2 separate regions of the Homo sapiens genome follow, and region 2 is linked to region 1. The links come from fine-mapping of genetic effects on gene expression. A gene starts in region 1. The other region holds a variant in brackets. All regions are shown on one strand. Distances are between the middles of the regions.

What was found.
Region 2: its variant is fine-mapped to the expression of CARHSP1 in lung (TOPMed, PIP above 0.99).

What each region holds. Positions count from the first base shown.
Region 1 is chr16:8,863,133-8,873,422 of GRCh38, reverse strand. CARHSP1 (calcium regulated heat stable protein 1) reads left to right here and starts at 4,417. Exons shown (of 4, transcript NM_014316.4): 1 at 4,417-4,457. It overlaps CARHSP1-DT (CARHSP1 divergent transcript), which reads right to left and starts at 4,142. Exons shown (of 2, transcript NR_186721.1): 1 at 4,095-4,142; 2 at 3,384-3,810. RefSeq lists a silencer at 4,095-5,054 and enhancers at 5,195-5,254, 6,260-6,899, 6,900-7,537, 9,037-9,196.
Region 2 is chr16:8,837,090-8,847,379 of GRCh38, reverse strand. The region is part of intron 7 of PMM2 (phosphomannomutase 2); the gene reads right to left. Among named protein-coding and RNA genes, the nearest start is that of CARHSP1, 27 kb to the left of the region's middle. RefSeq lists an enhancer at 299-890. The variant C/T (reference allele first, on the strand shown) is at 4,295.

The DNA.
Region 1 (10,290 bases):
CCAGCCTGGGTGACAGAATGAGACTCCATGTCAACAACAACAGCAACAACAACAAAAGACTATACACTTTAAATGTGTGCATTTAATTGGATGTCAGTTATATCTCAATAAAGCTGTTGGAAAACAGGATTTTTCAGGGAGTGAAAGAACTCTGTATGACACTGTAATGGGAGATCCATGCCATTATACATTTGTTCAAACAAATAGAACGTACAGCTCCAGGAGTGACCCGCATTTAAACCACGGATTCTGGGCGATGACGTGTCAGTGTAGGTTCACCCACTGTAACAAATGTACCACTCGGGCGTGTGATGTGGATAGCGAGGGGGTGCTGTGCGTGTGTGCTGGTCAGGAGTGTTTGGAAAATCCCTGTATTTTCTGCTCAGCATTTTTTTTTTTTTTTAGATGGAGTTTCGCTCTTGTTGCCCAGGCTGGTGCGCAATGGTGCGATCTCAACTCACGGCAACCTCCACCTCCCGGTTGATTCTCCTGCCTCAGCCTCCCGTGTAGCTGGGATTACAGGCAAGCACCACCATGCCCAGCTAATTTTGTAGTTTGTCAGAGACTGGGTTTCTCCATGTTGCTCAGGCTGGTGTCAAACTCCCGACCTCAGGTGATCCGCCTGCCTCAGCCTCCCAAAGTGCTGGGATTACAGGTGTGAGCCACCACGCCTGGTCAGTTTTTTTGTTTTGTTTTGTTTTGTTTTGAGACGGGATTTCTCACTGTATTGCCAGACTGGAGTGCAGTGGTGCAATCATGGCTCATTGCAGCCTCGACTTACTGGGCTCAATGTATCCTCCTGCCTCAGCCTCCCAAGTAGTTGGGACCAGAGGCATGTGCCACCACATCCAGCTATTTTTTTTTTTTTTGAGATGGAGACTCACTCTGGTGCCCAGGCTGGAGTGCAGTGGCGCGATCTCGGTTCACTGCAACCTCTGCCTCCTGGGTTCAAGCAATTCTGCAGCCTCAGGTTCCTGAGTAGCTGGGATTACAGGCGCTACCACCACGCCCAGCTAATTTTTGTTATTTTAGTAAAGACAGGGTTCCACCATGCTGGCCAGGCTGGTCTCAAATCCTGACCTCTGGTGATCCTCCCAAAGTGCCGGGATTACAGGTGTGAGCCACTAGGCCCAGCCCTTTCTGCTCAATTTTGCTGTAAACCTAAACTGCCCTAAAAAGCAAAGTCCGTGTTTGTTTGTTTGTTTACAGACAGGGCCTCCCTCTGTTGCCCAGGAGTGCAGTGGCATGATCATAGCTCACTGTAACTTCTGACACCTGCGCTCACATGATGTGCCTGCCTCAGACTCCCAAAGTGTTGGGATTATAGGCATGAGCCACTGTGCCCAGCCCTTTTTCTTTTTTCTTTCTTTCTCTCTCTCTCACTCCTCCCTCCCTCCCTTTCTTTCTTCCTCTTTTTTTAATTTTAGAAATAAAATATGCTATGTTGCCCAGGCTTGTCTTGAACTCCTGGCTTCTAGGCATCCTCCTGTCTTGGGCTCCCAAGTAGCTGGGATTATGGGCATGAGCCACAGCACCTGGCCGTGGATGAATTTTCATAAAGTGAACCCACCCAGGTACCCAGACTGAGGGACAGAAGTTTACCAGATCCTAGAATCCCACCTTGTGCCCCTCCTGGTCATGGCCTCCCCCCACCCCCACCCCAGTGTCCCCGCTTGTTTATTTGTTTATTTATTTATTTATTGAGGTGGAGTCTGGCTCTGTCGCCCAGGCTGGACTGCAGTGGCACAATCTCGGCTCACTGCAACTTCCACTTCTCAGGTTCAAGCAATTTTCATGCCTCAGCCTCCCGAGTAGCTGGGATAACAGGTGTGCACCATCATACCGGGATAAGTTTTGTATTTTTAGTAGAGACAGGGTTTCACCATGTTGGCTGGGCTGGTTGTGAACTCCTGAGCTCAAGTGATCCGCCCTCCCAGGCCTCCCAAAGTACTGGGGTTACAGGCATGAGCCACTGTGCCTGGCCTTGACTTTTTAAAAACAGCTTAACTGAGTCATAATTCACACACCATACAGTTCACCCATTGAAAGCACACAATGCAATGATTTTTAGTATATCCACGGACTTGTGCAACTATCGCCACCATCACTTTCAGCACATTTTCATCATCTCAAAAAGAAACCCCTGTACCTTTTAAGTATCAACCGTCTAGCCCGCACCCCCACCCCCAGCCTCTGGCAACCCTTAATCTACTTCCTGTTTCTAGAGATTTGCCCATTCAGAACATTTCATACAGATGGAATCACACAAAGTGCGGCCTTTGTGTGGCTTCTTTCTCTTAGCATATTTTCAAGGTTCCTCTATGTTGTAGCTTGCATCAAGATTTCATTCCTGTTGATGAGTGAATAGTTGTCTACTGTATAGATACACAACATTTTGTTTATCCTTTCATCACTTGATGGACATCTGAGCTGTTTCTCCCTTTTGGCTACTATGAGTAATACTGCTATAAATCTTACTCTGTCACCCAGGCTGGAGTGCAGCAGTGCAGTCACGGATCACAGCAGCCTCGATCTCCTGGGCTCAAGGGATCCTCCCACCTCAGCCTCCCCAGTAGCTGGGACTACAGGTGGGTGCTACTACTCCTGGCTAATTAAAACTTTTTTTTTTTTGGTAAAGAAGGGGTCTTACTATGTTGTCCAGGCTGGTCATAAACTCCTGGGCTTAAGAGATCCTCCTGTCTCGGTCTCCCAAAGTGCTGGGATTACAGGCGTGAGCCACCACGCCCAGCCCAACAAGTAAATCATTATTTATCTATTTATTTATTTTTGAGATGGAGTCTTGCTCTGTCGCCCAGGCAGGCTGGAGTGCAGTGGCACTATCTCGGCTCATTGCAAGCTCCGCCTCCCGGGTTCACGCCATTCTCCTGCCTCAGCCTCCCGAGTAGCTGGGACTACAGGGGCCCGCCACCGCGCCCGGCTAATTTTTAATATTTTTAATAGAGACGGGGTTTCCCCGTGGTCTCGTTCTCCTGACCTCGTGATCCGCCCGCCTCGGCCTCCCAAAGTGCTGGGATTACAGGCGTGAGCCACCGCGCCCGGCCTATTTATTTATTTTTAACTTTTTTTCCCCCCCGAGACGGAGACTCGCTGTCGCCCAGGCTGGAGTGCAGTGGCATGATCCTGGCTCACTGCAACCTCCACCTCCCGGGTTCAAGTGATTCTCCTGCCTCAGTCTCCCAAGTAACTGGGATTACAGGCACCCGCCACCAAGCCCGGCAAATTTTTGTATTTTTCATAGACACGGGGTTTCGCCATGTTGGCCAGGCTGGTCTCCAACTCCTGAGCTCAAGTGATCCTCCTGCCTCGGCCTCCCAAAGAGCTGGAATTACAGGCGTGAGCCACCGCACCCGGCCTCAAGTAAATTTTTGTGTGGACAAACATTTTTATTTCTCTTGGGCGCGCAGACACCTAGGAGTGGAGTTGATGGGTTTTATGGAGACTCCAGGGCTCGTGGTTTGAGGAACCGCCGGGCTTTTTCCACAGCAGCTGCGCGGTTGTTCCCACCAGCCGTCTAGGACGGTTCCTTGCCTGGCTTGGACTAGTTGGTTTCGCTGCTGGGCCTTTTCCCCAGTGGCCCCAATAGGGGCTGCAGAGTGAGGCAGGCACAGTCCTCACCGCCGCCTCCGGGGGCCCTGTTGTCCCGGGCGAGCTCCGGGGACCTCTCTCCTTCCCCGCGCCCCTCAAATACCAAGCTGACCCTGGTCCCGGGATCTAGGCTCGCCTTCAGGGGCTGCTCTCGACTGGCCGTGCCCATGGGCTGGTCGCCTCTCTGTGCCTCAGTTTCCTCTCCTGCAAAACAGAGGTAACATTTTTTACCTCCAAAAACAGAGGACTCAAGGAAGGCTAGAAATGAAACAAGAGAAGAGAACAAAATCAAAATCCCCAACGAGAAAACAAAACCCTGTTTTTCTGGTGTGTGTGTGCGTGTGTATTTTTTCTTTCCCTTTTCCTCCTTTCTGTTTTTTGCTTGTTTTCTTCCGTCTCTCTTTTCATTCCTTTATTTCCTTTCTGCTAAAAGTGACACCCTCCGGGATTATACAGATTTTAGAGCCAAAGGCAGGTGGGAGCCGCACCTGGCGCGCGTGGCGAGGGGAAGGAACTGCACGGGCGCAGGGACACAGTTCCCCCACTTTGCAGGGGCGTTTTCTGCTGGTGGGTGCAGCCCAGCTCCGCCCCGCCCCGCCCCGCCCCGGCCCCTACGTCCCGCGCTCTGCGTTCCGCTCTCCCGCCAGTCTAAGGCGCGGACACAAAGGTCCTGTCCGGGCCACTCCCGCCCCGCCCGCCCCCACCGTCCCGGGCTCCCTCCCGCAGCCCCATTGGCCGGGAGCTCCTGGGGGCGGGGATCGGCGCCCCACCCCCCCTCGGGCCACGCCCCCTCCCCAGCTCCGCGCTCTCAGTCGGAGCGAAGCGGCTGGCGGAGCAGAACGGATTGCAGGGTAGGGAGCTCTTCTCGGGGACCCCAGGATAGGCGCCCCTGGCCCGCGGCCCCGGGAGCCGCAGGGGTGGGGCCTCGGCCTCCTCTGCCTCCATCGTCCCCCATCCTGCAGGGTCTTCTAGCTCGGCAGAGGAGGGCTCCGGGCTGGGTTTCTCGGGGCCTGTTTGGGGAACGCGGGTTGCTCCTCCCCAGGGGAAGGGGTGGGTGTGGCAACAGCGGCAAGGATTCTAGGCGGACGTCGGGTAGTACTTCCCGCCTGGCCACCTGTTCTCTGCGTGCAGGGGAAGCTCTTCCCGCCCTCCCCGCTGCTTTTGCCTTTGGGCGGGAGCCCTGGACGGGGGACTCGCCGGGCGGTGGGGCGAGGCGCGGGGGGCGTCGCACGCGGGAAGCAGAGCCACCCCCCGCCGGGCCTGGCCGCGCCAGCTGTGGCTCGAGGTTGGGACGGCGGCCAGGCCCGGCGGGGGAGGTGGGGAGCCGTCCTGGCGCCGCGCGATTAGCCGCATCTGGGGGAGGAGGAGCCGCCGGGCGCGCTGGGCCCGGGTGTTTGCGCCCGGATGGGGGTGGGGGTGCCTTAGGCGCTGGAGAAAAACTTCACCCGCGCCCACAGGCCCCCTTTCCGCAGGCTGCGCTGGCGGTTCAGGTTTGCAGGCCGGAAGTGAAATGTTCTTTTTTGATTTTTAAAAAGGAAGCCTCCGGCCCTATGGTTTTCTGGGGTTGGAGTGGATGTGTGTGCTGGGGGAGGCGGAGACGTCCCGCTCCAGGCAGGGCCTTGGGTCTTAATAGGTGGGGAAATCTCTGCCAAATAGGAGGCCTCTCGGAGCCTCAGTTTCCCCATCTGCAGACTGGGCTCTGACTTCTTCTGGCATGAGAGGGTGTGTGAGAGTAAAAGGAGGCAGCTAGCCCCGTGCCGGGAGACACGTAAGCTACTGTTTTTTAACTTGCTGTTTTGATATTTCTCAGTCTCTCTGTGCCCAGTCTTGCTTGCCCCTGTCATTTGCTGCCACTCTGAAGCCAGAGGGAACTTAGAAAAACAATCCGCTTAGATCTACCCCACGCTGAAAATCGTCCACCGAAGTCCCATTGTCGTCTAAGTCCCCAACTTCTCAGCAGGGCTTCCTGTTATCTTCCGCCACTACCTTCTCCAGCCTCTCTCTGCCTCTGTTCTCCCTCCCTTCGGGCCTTTGGCCCTCCTCTGGGCTCGGGGTCCTCCTTGGAGACCCCACCGCCCTCTGCACTCCCTGGGTGGCCTCGGTGATGACCGTGAGTTCTCGATGCTGGTCCCTTCAGGGCAAGAAAGAGGCGCAGAGCCCGGCTGGGAGTAGATGTTTTCAATGAGCTGAGCTAGGCCTGGCGTGGGGCCATGGGGTGGGGTTGAGGGTGGTTGACGGTGGGTCCCCTAGGTAGGGGATCGGTCTTTGTTCCACCGAGTGGCAAAGCCAGCGCATTTGGTTTGTGTTCCATCAGCAGGGGCAGGAATGGGAGGGAAGGTGATTTCAGATGGGCCCGTGCCTGACACTTCCACCATCAGCCGCACTATTGTGGACTGAGCCCGCCGTGCGCTTGGCATTTTCGCGGCACCATCTGCACAGCGTCCGAGCCCTGCGACGCAGCACCGCTCCTGTCCCCTTTGACAGATGAGGAAACTCGGGTGGGGCGGTGAAATCGCCTGGCAGGGGTCACAGAGGGAGTGGGGACCAGTCAGGGCTCAATCTCAGGTCTGAGCCAAAGCCCCCCGAGAATGGAGGGAAGGATGGAGGGATTGAGTGGGGGAGGCGTGTAGAGTAGGGTTCTTGTTGAGAAGGAGGGCTTGGGCTTCCCGCAGGAGGGGCAGTCCAGGCTGAGAACTGGGGCGGGCGCAGGGTCCCAGGTGGGTGGTGGCGGTGGGGTGACCGTCTCCCTGCTGGGTGGGGTCGCCCGTCCGGTCGAGGCCGTCCAGGGGTGCTAATGGGGGCACAGGCAATGGCAATGTTGGAGGCCCCCTTGGGTTCCCGGTACACTCCTCGGGTTTCCGGCCTCTTCCCAGCACTCAGGGGCTCCTGAGGGCGGAAGAGCTATTCCCAGCTTGGCGGGGCCTGGGAGGGGGCTCTGGGCAGACGTAGGCGCCGGGCTGCACCTTCCCTGCCCGCCTGTTTGCACTTCTCTGTGACTGTTGGCTTCAGGTCCTTAGCCAGCGGAGGGCTGACTCCGGCCTGGCTGCCCCCTCCCCTTTGCCTCCCGTCCCTCCCCCTGGACACTCCAACCCCCATCCCTTCGTGTCCCTCCCCCTCCTCTCTCTCTGCTCCTCCCTCGCCAGACCCCCCGCTCTCCCCGGAACAATGGAGGGGAATGTGGCTAGGCCAGCCTGACGCTGCTGCGTCAACCTCTGGCTCGTTCTCGGCCTCTATCGCTTCCAGGGACCCTTCTATCTGGGCTCAGCTGACCCGCCCCGCCTCTCGGCCCACGTGCCGGCAGTTCTCCCAGGCTGGGGCTCAGCTGCGCTGGAGACTGGGATGGGTCAGCTCAGTGTCTCTGTCTGTTTACAAAGGAGGAACCCAGGTGCACTAAGGTAACTTCGCTACTCTGCTAGAGTCTCACCCCGATCCCTGCGCCATTTCCCTTCCACCTCCTGCACTGTTAAGCCTTGGGCTGTGAGATGGGCCAGTGTAGCCCGGCTACTGCCGTGTTCCCTGGGTCAGGGACAGCTGCCTCACTGGGAGCGCCTTAGAAATGTAGAATCTTGGCCAGGAATCTGGAGCCTGTAATCCCAGCACTTTGGGAGGCCGGGGTGGGAGAATCTCTTGAGCCTGGGAGGTCGAGACCAGCCTGGACAACACAGTGAGACCTTGTCTCTACAAAAAATAAAAAAATTAGCTGGGTGTGGTAGCACACGCCTGTAGTCCCAGCTACTTGGGAGGCTGAAGTGAGAGGATCCCTTGAGCCCAGGAGGTTGAGGCTGCAGTGAGCCATGATTGTGCCACCAAACTCCAGCCTGGGTAACAAAGCAAGACCCTGTCTCAAAAAAAATAAAAAAGAAATGAAGAATCTCAGGCCCCACCCCACACCTGCTGAATGGCAATCTGCATTTGAACAAGATCCCCAGAGATTCCTGACTGCATTAAAGTAGGAAGTAGAATCACTGGCTTAACTCTGTGCCTTAGTTTCCTCATCTGTAAAACAGGGCTGCTAAAAGTGCCTCCCCTGTTGGGTCGATGTTTACGTGCATGTAGTTGATGTTTGTAATCCCCCAACAGGGCCTGACGCAGAAGTCTGTGGACAGTGGCTGTAGGGTGTATGAAAGCACTACAGCCTGCCCCATCCCCATAGTGCGGGCCACTACCCACCACACCTGCCAGCAGTGGGCTGGCTCCGGGCTGGAAGCTGCCCCAACACCATGCCCAACCCTGGCCTTCCCCAGCCAGCATCCCATGGAAGGCTCAAGACACCCTCATTTTGCAGAGCAGGCTTGGAGAGGTTCTCGCTTTGCCAAGAGTGAGGTGTCTGACTTGAACTCTTATCCCCCTGCCTTCTATCATCCTGTCTTCAATAAAGGGGCTGAAGCTATTAAGAATGGAATCTCTGGCTGGGCACGGTGGCTCATGCCTGTAATCCGAGGACTTTGGGAGGCTGAAGCGGGTAAATCATGAGAGGTCAGGAGTCCGAGACCAGATTGGCTAAAATGGTGAAACCCCGTCTCTACTAAAAATACAACAATTGGCTGGGTGTGGTGGTACATGCCTGTAGTCCCAGCTACTCGGGAGGCTAAGGCAGGAGAATCGCTTGAACCTGGGGGGCGGGGGTCTGCAGTGAGCTGAGATTGTGCCACTGCACTCCATCCTGGGCAACAGAGGGAGATTCTGTCTCACAAAAACAAAAATGAATGGAGTCTCCTTCAATGAGCTCCCTCTTACTAGAGTGTAAATGGCTGATAGCACTGCTAAAGCCCTCCTTGCAGTAAGCACAGGGCTGCTTGGCTCCCATTGATGTGGGTGGTGGGTTTTCAGGCCAGGAGGGCAGGAAGTTGGGGAGTGGGTAATGGGGGCTGCATGATTGGGCCGTAAGTCTCCAGACATGCGGGCAGGCTGAGCAGGGGCTGGGAAAGCCAGAGTCTTGGTACCCAGCTGAACTCCAGAACCTTCCAGGAGGAGCTGCAGAGCCTACGGAAAATTCCCAGGCTATTTTCGGCCGAGGCCCCCTTCTCCCAGCCGACACACCCATCCCTGGGGCAGTCAGGGTGGGCGTGGCTTCCTGCCCCCACCACCCTGGGCTCCCTCCCTTGGCCGGGCACTCATCAGAGCCTGGGGGCTGACTGGGGAAGGGGGTGCATGGCCAGCTGGGCACCTCCTGGTGCAGCCTCTCCCCCTTACCCTGCTGGCTTTTTCTCCGTAGCATTTCTGCTGTCTGACTTACTCCGTATTTCACCAGGGTCTTTGTTAGCCGGGCGACCCTGGGCAAGTTACTTGACTCTTTGTGTCTCCGTTCTCCCATTAGTGAAATGGGGATAGAATGAGCTGGGCTGTGTGAAGTGTTGTAAAGTAGTAAGCAGAATGGCCCCAGGACACTGCTGTGGTGGTGGTAGTCATGGTCTGTCCCACTCCCTTATCTGTTGGTTCAATAGGAAGTGGCAGAGTTCATCAAGGTCCCCTGTGGCAGCACAGGTGCCCAGCGTGCTGTGCGGTGAGGTGAGGCTCCCCGCTCCATGGACGTGTGCATACAGACGGCAACAAGTTCACGCATGCATACACGTGTATGCGCTCAGATGCAGAGACAGCCATGTGTGGGCACATATGTATGTGTACACATGCGTATATACACAGCACACACATACACATGTGCATACACCTACATACCTGTGCACAAACGAGCACACATGTACATGCAGCCTGGCAGTCATGACACCTTGGTCGTGACATTTGGTCGAAGTTTGTTGCAGGCCAGAAGCTCATCTGAGTGGCGGATCTGTTTGCAGCCTTCCTCCCTCCCCCAGCTGTGGGGAGCTGAAGGCTAGTCACAGAGGGCAGGCCCTGTCTTCTGCTGGGGACACTCCAAGGCCATGCCTGGTATTGCTGGGAGAGCAGTGGCTGGCTGGAAGCTGGGACTGTGCTGGTGGGCGGGGCTGCTGTGTGGCCCCATCCTTGTGTATGTGTGTATTGTGGAGGGGACACAGCAGAGGCTGGCCAGGGCCTCAGAGCTGGCTTCTGGGTGCCTGGTTACCCGCCCCCCAGTTGTTTTCTTTCCAGCTGGACTTTGCCCGGCCCTCCCCCGCACTGAGGCCATTCACTCCTCTCTGCTGGGCCTACTGGGGAGTGAGTGGCCCTTGGCCAGGCCTACTCTGGCCACCCCAGCTTGGCTTCAGCCCAGATGGGCCATGAGAGGCTGGATAAAGCTCCTGGGTCTCCCAGTTGGCACTGCCCCCGCCCCTAGTCACGTCTGCTCCGTGCCTCAGTTTCTTCCACTATCAGGTGAGCAGGAATGTAGCCACCTCCTGCTGGGCTGGGCATGGTGCTGAGTGCACACCAATGCAGTGGCAGCCAGCTGGGGCTTTGGGTCCTAATGCTGGCAAAGAATGAGGCTTGGAAGCTGGGTGTGGTGGCTCACGCCTGTAATCCCAGCACTTTGGGAAGCCAAGGTGCGCCGATCGCTTGAGCCCAGGAGTTTAAGACCAGCCTGGGCAACATATTGAAACCCTGTCTCTACAAAAAATGAGCTGGTTGTGGTGGCACGTGGCCGTAGTCCCACAACCCAGGAGGCTGGGGTGGGCGGATCACCTGAGCCCAGGAGGTTGAGAGGCTTCAGTGAGCCATGATCGCGCCACTGCATTCCAGCCTAGGTGACCAAGTGAGATCCTATCTGAAAAA
Region 2 (10,290 bases), 26 kb after region 1:
TTAGCTGTACCTACGCTTTTCTAACAAGTCACAAGGGAGCGTCAGGAGGGCAGAGGGCCGGGAGCAGGGCTGCCAGGGATATTCCTGTGATGAGGGACGTGGCGACATCAGCGGTGATGGCAGCCACTGGCCATGTGTCACTCTGCACACTTGAAACGTGGCCAATGCAATGGAGGAACTCAGTTAATTTGATTTTAATTTAAACAGCCCCACGTGGGCCGGGCATGGTGGCTCATGCCTGTAATCCCAGCACTTTGGGAGGCTGAGAAGGGTGGATCACTTGAGGTCAGGAATTTGAGACCAACCTGGCTAACACAGCAAAACTCCATTTCTACTTAAAATACAAAAATTAGCTGGGCATGGTGGCGCACGTCTGAAATCCCAGCTGCTCGGGAGGCTGAGGCAGGAGAATTGCTTGAACTCGGGAGGTGGAAGTTGCAGTAAGCCGAGATCGCACCACTGCACTCCAGCCTGGGCGACAAAGGGAGACTCTATCTTAAATAAATAAATAAATGGCCCCACATGACTGGGGTCTGAGCTGCTGGCTAAAAGCAGGGTCTCTGGAACAGGTGGCCTGGGTCAGATGCTGGTTCTACCACTGAGCAGCAGTGTGGCTGCGCCAACTCCCCATCTCCAAAATGGGGTCATGATGGAAGCTTGCTCACAGCTCTGTGGCCAGAAGTTCAGGAGATGATGGTTGGGGTCACACCTTGGTAAGATGACGAAACCGAGGCCTCAGAAAGTCTGCAAGGGCCCATGTCTAGGAGGACCTGGGCATGTTCTGCTGGGGTCCTGTGCCTGAGTTGAGTGCTCCCATCTGTGTCCCCATCACCCCCACCAATCCCACTGGGCTCACGTTAATGAATCAGGTTATCTGCCGCTCCCGCAACCCCGAGCCCTGCAGGAAAGCCCCCGTTTTTCTCATGGAATTCCTTTATTTCCCTCATAAAATTGGATAATCACTCTAACTCAAAACCTTAAAATAATCTACGATTGCTTTACAATACAATGAACACAACCGTAGAAAAAAGGGATTTTTCTCATAAAGCACCGAGCATGAAGCCAACGTGGAAACCATGATTTTGTACCAAAAATCTGACATCCTTTAAAAGAATTAATTGCCTCTGGAAATGAGTGTTTTCATTTTTGCAAGAACCTATCCCCAGGCAGATGGCCTCCTCAGGTGGAGGTGAATTTCAGGCTTCAGGAGGGAACGTCGCTGGGCCCAGGGAGTGCTGGGTGGAGTCAGGTTAGGAGGCCATGAACTTGGCATCTCTTCCAGTCCAGCCACTTGGGAACCTGTCAGGGCCTTGTACTGGCCTTACACAGTTTTGTACCAGGCCTGGGGGCCTTCAGACAGACCTGAATTGCATGGCCACCATCTGCTACCTACACATGTGAAATCAGTTCTGGTAATTCTGATTTTGCCTTTTTTTTCCTTCGGACATAGGGTCTTGCTATGTTGCCCAGGCTGGGCTCGAGCGAACCTCCTGCCTCAGCCTCTCGAGTAGCTGAGACAAAGACTGTGTCCAACAGTGCCAAGCTAGTTCCAGTAATTCTTCTAATTAAAAAAAAAAAAAAAAAGATTTCTTTCAGGAATGGCACAGTGGGTAAAAGTCACAGAGAACCTAACAAAGGCACAACCTAGCTGGGTGTGGTGGTGCGCACCTGTAATCCCAGCTGCTTGGCAGGAGAATCACTTGAACCTGGGAGGCGGAGATTGCAGTGAGCCAAGAACAGACCACTGTACTTCAGCCTGGGCAACAGAGCGAGACTCAAAAGAAAAAAAAACAAACAAAAAACCAAAGGCACAACCAACTCTCACATGCCTCAAAAGAGCCAAACACCCTCCCCGCCTCAGTGACTGAGGAGGGGAGTCAGTATTCACACATTAACACAACACACCTTTCTAGAACACCTACTGTCAGGCCTCTGAGCCCAAGCCAAGCCATCGCATCCCCTATGACTTACACGTGTACATCCAGATGGCCTGAAGTAACTAAAGATCCACAAAAGAAGTAAAAATAGCCTTAACTGATGACATTCCACCATTGTGATTTGTTTCTGCCCCACCCGAACTGATCAATGTACTTTGTAATCTCCCCCACCCTTAAGAAGGTTCTTTGAAATTCTCCCCACTCTTGAGGATGTACTTTGTGAGATCCACCCCTGCCCGCAAAACATTGCTCTTAACTTCACCGCCTATCCCAAAACCCATAAGAACTAATGATAATCCACCACCCTTTGCCGACTCTCTTTTCGGACTCAGCCCGCCTGCACCCAGGTGAAATAAACAGCCATGTTGCTCACACAAAGCCTGTTTGGTGGTCTCTTCACATGGACGCGCATGAAATTTGGTGCCGTGACTCAGATCGGGAGACCTCCCTTGGGAGATCAATCCCCTATCCTCCTGCTCTTTGCTCCATGAGAAAGATCCACCTACGACCTCAGGTCCTCAGACCCACCAGCCCAAGAAACATCTCACCAATTTCAAATCCAATAAGCAGCCTCTTTTTACTCTCTTCTCCAACCTCCCTATCCCTCACCGTCTTTCTCCTTTCAATCTAGGCGCCACACTTCAATCTCTCCCTTCTCTTAATTTCAATTCCTTTCATTTTCTGGTAGAGACAAAGGAGACGTTTTATCTGTGGACCCAAAAAACCGGCGCCGGTCACGGACTGGGAAGGCAGCCTTCCCTTGGTGTTTAATCATTGCAAGGACGCCTCTGATCATTCACCCACGTTTCAGAGGTGTCAGACCACGCAGGGACACCTGCCTTGGTCCATAACCCTTAGCGGCAAGTCCCGCTTTTCTGAGGAAGGGGCAAGGACCCCAACCCCTTCTTTCCGTGTCTCTACCCCTTCTCTGATTTTCTGGGGCAGGGGCAAGAACCCCCCAACCCCTTCTCCTTCACCCTTAGCGGCAAGTCCCGCTTTTCTGGGGGAGAGGCAAGTACCCCAAACTCGTATCTCTGTGCCCCAATCCCTTATTTCCATGCCCCAACCCCTTTCCCGCTTTTCTGGAGGGTAAGAACCCCCAAACCCCTTCCCTCCATGTCTCTACGCTCTCTTTTCTCTGGGCTTGCCTCCTTCACTATGGGCAACCTTCCTACATTCCTCCTTCTTCTCCCTTAGCCTGTGTTCTCAAGAACTTAAAACCTCTTCAACTCATACCTGACCTAAAACCTAAATAAATGCCTTATTTTCTTCTGCAATGCCGCTTGACCCCAATACAAACTCGACAGTAGTTCCAAATAGCCAGAAAACGGCACTTTCAATTTTTCCATCCTGCAAGATCTAAATAATTCTTGTCGTAAAATGGGCAAACAGTCTGAGGTGCCTGATGTCCAGGCATTCTTTTACACATCAGTCCCTTCCTAGTCTCTGTGCCCAGTGCAACTCGTCCCAAATCTTCCTTCTTTCCCTCCCGCCTGTCCCCTCAGTCCCAACCCCAAGCGTTGCTGAGTCTTTCTAATCTTCCTTTTCTACAGACCCATCTGACCTCTCCCCTCCTCGCCAGGCCGAGCTAGGTTCCAATTCTTCCTCAGCCCCTAGACCCTAAAAGGTCAAAAGGCCGTCTTATTCTCAATATACATTTTATTACCCAATCTGCTCCCGACATTAAATAAAACTCCAAAAATTAGAATCTGGCCCTCAAACTCCACAACAGGACTTAATTAACCTCACCTTCAAGGTGTACAATAATAGAAAAAAGTTGCAATTCCTTGCCTCCACTGTGAGACAAACCCCAGCCACATCTCCAGCACACAAGAACTTCCAAATGCCTGAACCGCAGCGGCCAGGCGTTCCTCCAGAACCTCCTCCCCCAGGAGCTTGCTACACGTGCCAGAAATCTGACTACCAGGGCCAAGGAATGCCTGCAGCCCAGGATTCCTCCTAAGCCGTGTCCCATCTGTGCGGGACCCCACTGGAAATCGGACTGTTCAACTCACCTGGCAGCCACTCCCAGAGCCCCTAGAACTCTGGCCCAAGGCTCTCTGACTGACTCCTTGGCTTAGCGGCTGAAGATTGACGCTGCCCAATCGCCTTGGAAGCCCCCAGACCATCACGGACGCCAAGCTTTGGGTAACTCTCACAGTGGAGGGTAAGTCCACCCACTGTTTAATCGAAACGGGGACTACCCACTCCATGTTGCCTTCTTTTCAAGGGCCTGTTTCCCTTGCCTCCATAACTGTTGTGGGTATGGACGGCCAGGCTTCTAAACCTCTTAAAACTCCCCAACTCTGGTGCCAACTTAGACATTACTCTTTGAAGCACTCATTTTTAGTTATCCC[C/T]ACCTGCCCAGTTCCCTTATTAGGCCGAGATATTTTAAGCAAATTATCTGCTTCCCTGACTATTCCTGGACTACAGCCGCATCTCATTGCCGCCCTTCTCCCCAACCCAAAGCCTCCTTTGCGTCTTCCTCTCATATCCCCCCACCTTAACCCACAAATATGGGACATTTCTACTCCTTCCCTGACAACTGATCACATGCCCATTACCATCCCATTAAAACCTAATCACCCTTACCCCGCTCAACGCCAATATCCCATCCCACAGCACGCTTTAAAAGGATTAAAGCCTGTTATCACTGGCCTGCTACAGCATAGGCTTCTAAAACCTATAAACTCTTCTTATAATCCCCCCATTTTACCTGTCCAGAAACCGGACAAGTCTTACAGATTAGTTCAGGATCTGCGCCTTATCAACCAAATTGTTTTGCCTATCCACCCTGTGGTGCCCAACCCATACACTCTTTCATCCTCAATACCTTCCTCCACAACTCACTATTCCACACTTGATCTTAAAGATGCTTCTTTCAGCGTTCCCCTGCACCCCTTGTCCCAGCCTCTCTTTGCTTTCACCTGGACTGACCCTGACACCCATCAGTCCCAGCAGCTTACCTGGGCTGTGCTGCCACAAGGTTTCAGGGACAGCCCTCATTACTTCAGCCAAGCTCTTTCTCATGATCTACTTTCTTTCCACCCCTCCGCTTCTCACCTTATTTAATATATTGATGACCTTCTTCTTTGTAGCCCCTCCTTTGAATCTTCTCAACAAGACACACTTCTGCTCCTTCAGCATTTACTCTCCAAAGGATATCAGGTATCCCCCTCCAAAGCTCAAATTTCATCCTCATCTGTTACCTATCTCGGCATAATTCTCATAAAAACACACGTGCTCTGCCTGTTGATCTTGTCTGATTAATCTCCCAAACCTCAATCCCTTCCAAAACAACAACTCCCTTCCTTCCTAGGCATGGTTAGTGCGGTCAGAATTCTTACACAACAGCCAGGACCACACCCTGTAGCCTTTCTGTCCAAACAACTTGACCTTACTGTTTTAGCCTAGCCCTCATGTCTGCGTGCAGCGGCTGCCGCTGCTTTAATACTTTTAGAGGCCGTAAAAATCACAAACTATGCTCAACTCACTCTCTACATTTCTCATAACTTCCAAAATCCATTTTCTTCCTCATACCTGATGCATATACTTTCTGCTCCCCGGCTCCTTCAGCTGTACTCACTCTTTGTTAAGTCCCACAATTACCATTGTTCCTGGCCCGGACCTCAATCTGGCCTCCCACATTATTCCTGATACCACACCTGACCCCCATGACTGTGTTTCTCTGATCCACCTGACATTCACCCCATTTCCCCATATTTCCTTCTTTCCTGTTCCTCACCCTGATCACGCTTGATTTATTGATGGCGGTTCCACCAGGCCTAATCGCCACATAGCAGCAAAGGCAGGCTATGCTATAGTACAAGCCACTAGCCCGCCTCTTAGAACCTCTCATTTCCTTTCCATCGTGGAAATCTATCCTCAAGGAAATAACTTCTCAGTGTTCCATCTGCTATTCTACTACTCCTCAGGGATTATTCAGGCCCCTTCCCTTCCCTACACATCAAGCTTGAAGATTTGCCCCCACCCAGGACTGGCAAATTAGCTTCACTCAACATGCCCCGAGTCAGATAACTAAAATACCTCTTAGTCTAAGTAGACACTTTCACTAGATAAGTAGAGGCCTTTCCTACAGGGTCTGAGAAGGCCACCGCAGTCATTTCTTCCCTTCTGTCAGACATAATTCCTCAGTTTAGCCTTCCCACCTCTATACAGTCTGATAACGGACCAGCCTTTACTAGTCAAATCACCCAAGCAGTTTCTCAGGCTCTTAGTATTCAGTGGAACCTTCATATCCCTTACAGTCCTCAATCTTCAGGAAAGGTAGAACGGACTAATGGTCTTTTAAAGGTACACATCACCAAGCTCAGCCTCCAACTTAAAAAGGATTGGACAGTACTTTTACTTCTTGCTCTTCTCAGAATTAGAGCCTGTTCTCGAGATGCTACAGGGTAGGTACAGTCCATTTGAACTTTTATATGGACGCACTTTCTTGCTTGGCCCCAACCTCATCCCAGACACCAGCCCTCTAGGCGACTGTCTTCCAGTCCTCCAGCAGGCTAGACAGGAAATTCGCCAGGCTGCTAAGCTTCTCTTGCCTACTCCAGATCCCCAGCCATATGAAGACACCCTAGCTGGACGATCAGTTCTTGTTAATCTGACTCCTCAAACTCTACAACCTCGATGGACCGGACCCTACTTAGTCATCTATAGTACCCCGACTGCTGTCCGCCTGCAGGATCCTCCCCACTAGGCTCACCGTTCCAGAATAAAGCTGTGTCCATCGGACAGCCAGCCTAATCCCTCCTCTTCCTCCTGGAAGTTGCAAGTACTCTCCCCTACTTCCCTTAAACTCAGTCGTATTTCGAAGAACAGTCATAACCCTTATGAGCCTAATACATCCCTTCATTCTATTAGGTTTTTCGTCCTTACCCTACTTTTTGCAACAGGGCTTTACGAAGTCACCCCCACCACTTAGGCCGAGCCCCAAAAAACTAGTCATCCCTACTATCTTCTGTCTGGTCATACTCCTATTCTCCATTCTCAACTACTTATAAATGCCCTACTCTTGTTTACACGGCCGGTTTACACTGTTTCTTCAAGCCATCACAGCTGATATCTCTTGGTGCTATCCCCAAACTGCCACTCTTAACTCCCTCTTAGAGTGGATAGATGATCTTTGCTGGCAAGGCACCCTCCAATATTTCCACCCTGATGAAGTTCTATTCTTTACTTTTATACTCACTCTTATTCTCATTCCCATTCTTATGCCACCCTCTACCTCTCCCCAGCTATCTCCACCACACTATCAACCTTACCCATTCTCTCCTAGCCGCTTCTAATCCCTCCTTAGTGAACAACTGCTGGCTTTGCATTTCCCTTTCTTCCAGTGCCTACACAGCTGTCCCCACCTTACAGACAGACTGGGCAACATCTCCCATCTCCCTACACCTCCGAACTTCCTGTAACAGCCCTCACCTTTACCCTCCTGAAGAACTCATTTACTTTCTAGACAGGTCCAGCAAGACTTCCCCAGACATTTCACATCAGCAAGCTGCCGCCCTCCTTCACACTTATTTAAAAAACCTTTCTCCTTTCTCCTTTCTCCCCCCATATTCGGACCTCTCACAACACAAACTACTATGCCTGTGGCCGCTCCTATATGTATCTCTCGGCAAAGACCCACTGGAATTCCCCTAGGTAATCTTTCACCTTCTCGATGTTCCTTTACTCTTCATCTCCAAAGTCCAACTACACACATCACTCAAACAATGGGAGCCTTCCAGCTCCATATTACAGACAAGCCCGCTATCAATACTGACAAACTTAAAAACATTAGCAGTAATTATTGCTTAGGAAGACACTTGCCCTGTATTTCACTCCATCCTTGGCTACTTTCCCCTTGCTCATCAGACTCTTCCTCCCAGGCCCTCCTCTTGTTTACTTTTACCCAGCCCCGAAAATAATAGTGAAAGGTTGCTTGTAGATACTCAACGTTTTCTCATACACCATGAAAATCGAACCTCCCCCTCTATGCAGTTACCCCATCAGTCCCCATTACAACCTCTGACAGCTGCCGCCCTAGCTGGATCCCTAGGACTCTAGGTACAAGACACCCCTTGCAGCACTCCTCATCTTTTTACTTTACATCTCCAGTTTTGCCTCGCACAAGGTCTCTTCTTCCTCTGTGGATCCTTTACCTAACATGTGTCTACCTGCTAATTGGACAGGCACATGCACACTAGTCTTCCTTACTCCCAAAATTCAATTTGCAAATAGGAACGAAGAGCTCCCTGTTCCCCTCATGACACCGACACAACAAAGAAGAGTCATTCCACTAATTCCCTTGATGGTCGGTTTAGGACTTTCTGCCTCCACTATTGCTCTCGGTACTGGAATAGCAGGCATTTCAACCTCTGTCATGACCTTCCGTAGCCTGTCTAATGACTTCTCTGCTAGCATCACAGACATGTCACAAACTTTATCAGTCCTCCAGGCCCAAGTTGACTCTTTAGCTGCAGTTGTCCTCCAAAACCACCGAGGCCTTGCTTACTCACTGTTGAAAAAAGAGGACTCTGCATATTCTTAAATGAAGAGTGTTGTTTTTACCTAAATCAATCTGGCCTGATGTATGACAACATAAAAAAACTCAAGCATAGAGCCCAAAAACTTGCCAACCAAGCAAGTAATTACGCTGAACCCCCTTACGCACTCTCTAATTGGATGTCCTAGGTCCTCCCAATTCTTAGTCCTTTAATACCCATTTTTCTCCTTCTTTTATTTGGACCTTGGATCTTCTGTTTAGTTTCTCAATTCATCCAAAACTGTATCCAGACCATCACCAATCATTCTATACAACAAATGTTTCTTCTAACATCCCCACAATATCACCCCTTACCACAAGACCTCCCTTCAGCTTAATCTCTCCCACTCTAGGTTCCCACGCCGCCCCTAATCCCGCTTGAAGCAGCCCTGAGAAACATCGCCCATTCTGTCTCCATACCACCCCCCAAAAATTTTCACCGCCCCAATACTTCAACACTATTTTATTTTTCTTATTAACATAAGAAGGCAGGAATGTCAGGCCTCTGAGCCCAAGCCAAGCCATCGCATCCCCTATGACTTGCACGTATACATCCAGATGGCCTGAAGTAAATGAAGATCCACAAAAGAAGTAAAAATAGCCTTAGCTGATGACATTCCACCATTGTGATTTGTTTCTGCCCCACCCGAACTGATCAATGTACTTTGTAATCTCCCCCACCCTTAAGAAGGTTCTTTGTAATTCTCCCCACTCTTGAGAATGTACTTTGTGAGATCCACTCCTGCCCACAAAACATTGCTCTTAACTTCACCGCCTATCCCAAAACCCATAAGAACTAATGATAATCCACCACCCTTTGCTGACTCTCTTTTCGGACTCAGCCCGCCTGCACCCAGGTGAAATAAACAGCCATGTTGCTCACACAAAGCCTGTTTGGTGGTCTCTTCACACGGACGCGCATGAAACACTTCAATCTCTCCCTTAATTTCAATTCCTTTCATTTTCTGGTAGAGACAAAGGAGACACATTTTATCTGTGGACTCAAAACTCCGGCGCCGGTCAGAGACTGGGAAGGCAGCCTTCCCTTGGTGTTTAATCACTGCAGGGACGCCTGATTATTTACCCACGTTTCAAAGGTGTCAGACCATGCAGGGACGCCTGCCTTGGTCCTTCACCCTTAGCGGCAAGTCCCACTTTTCTGGCGGAGAGGCAAGTACACCAACCCCTTCTCTCCGTGTCTCTACCCCTTCTCTGCTTTTCTAGGGGAGGGGTAAGTACCCCAACCCCATGTATCTCTGCGCCCCGATCCCTTATTTCTGCGCCCCAATCTCTTATATCTCTGTGCCCCAATCCCTTATTTCCGTGCCCCAACCCCTTCTCTGCTTTTCTGGAGGGCAAGAACCCCCCACCCCTTCTCCGTGTCTCTACTCTTTTCTCTGGGCTTACCTCCTTCACTATGGGCAAGCTTCCACCTTCCATTCCTTTCTTCTCCCTTAGCCTGTGTTCTTAAGAACTTAAAACCTCTTCAACTCACACCTGACCTAAAACCTAAATAAATGCCTTATTTTCTTCTGCAATTCCACTTGACCCCAATACAAACTCGACAGTAGTTCCAAATAGCCAGAAAACGGCACTTTCAGTTTTTCCATCCTACAAGATCTAAATAATTCTTGTCGTAAAATGGGCAAACGGTCTGAGGTGCCTGATGTCCAGGCATTCTTTTACACATCAGTCCCTTCCTAGTCTCTGTGCCCAGTGCAACTCGTCCCAAATCTTCCTTCTTTCCCTCCCACCTGTCCCCTCAGTCGCAACCCCAAGCGTCGCTGAGTCTTTCTAATATTCCTT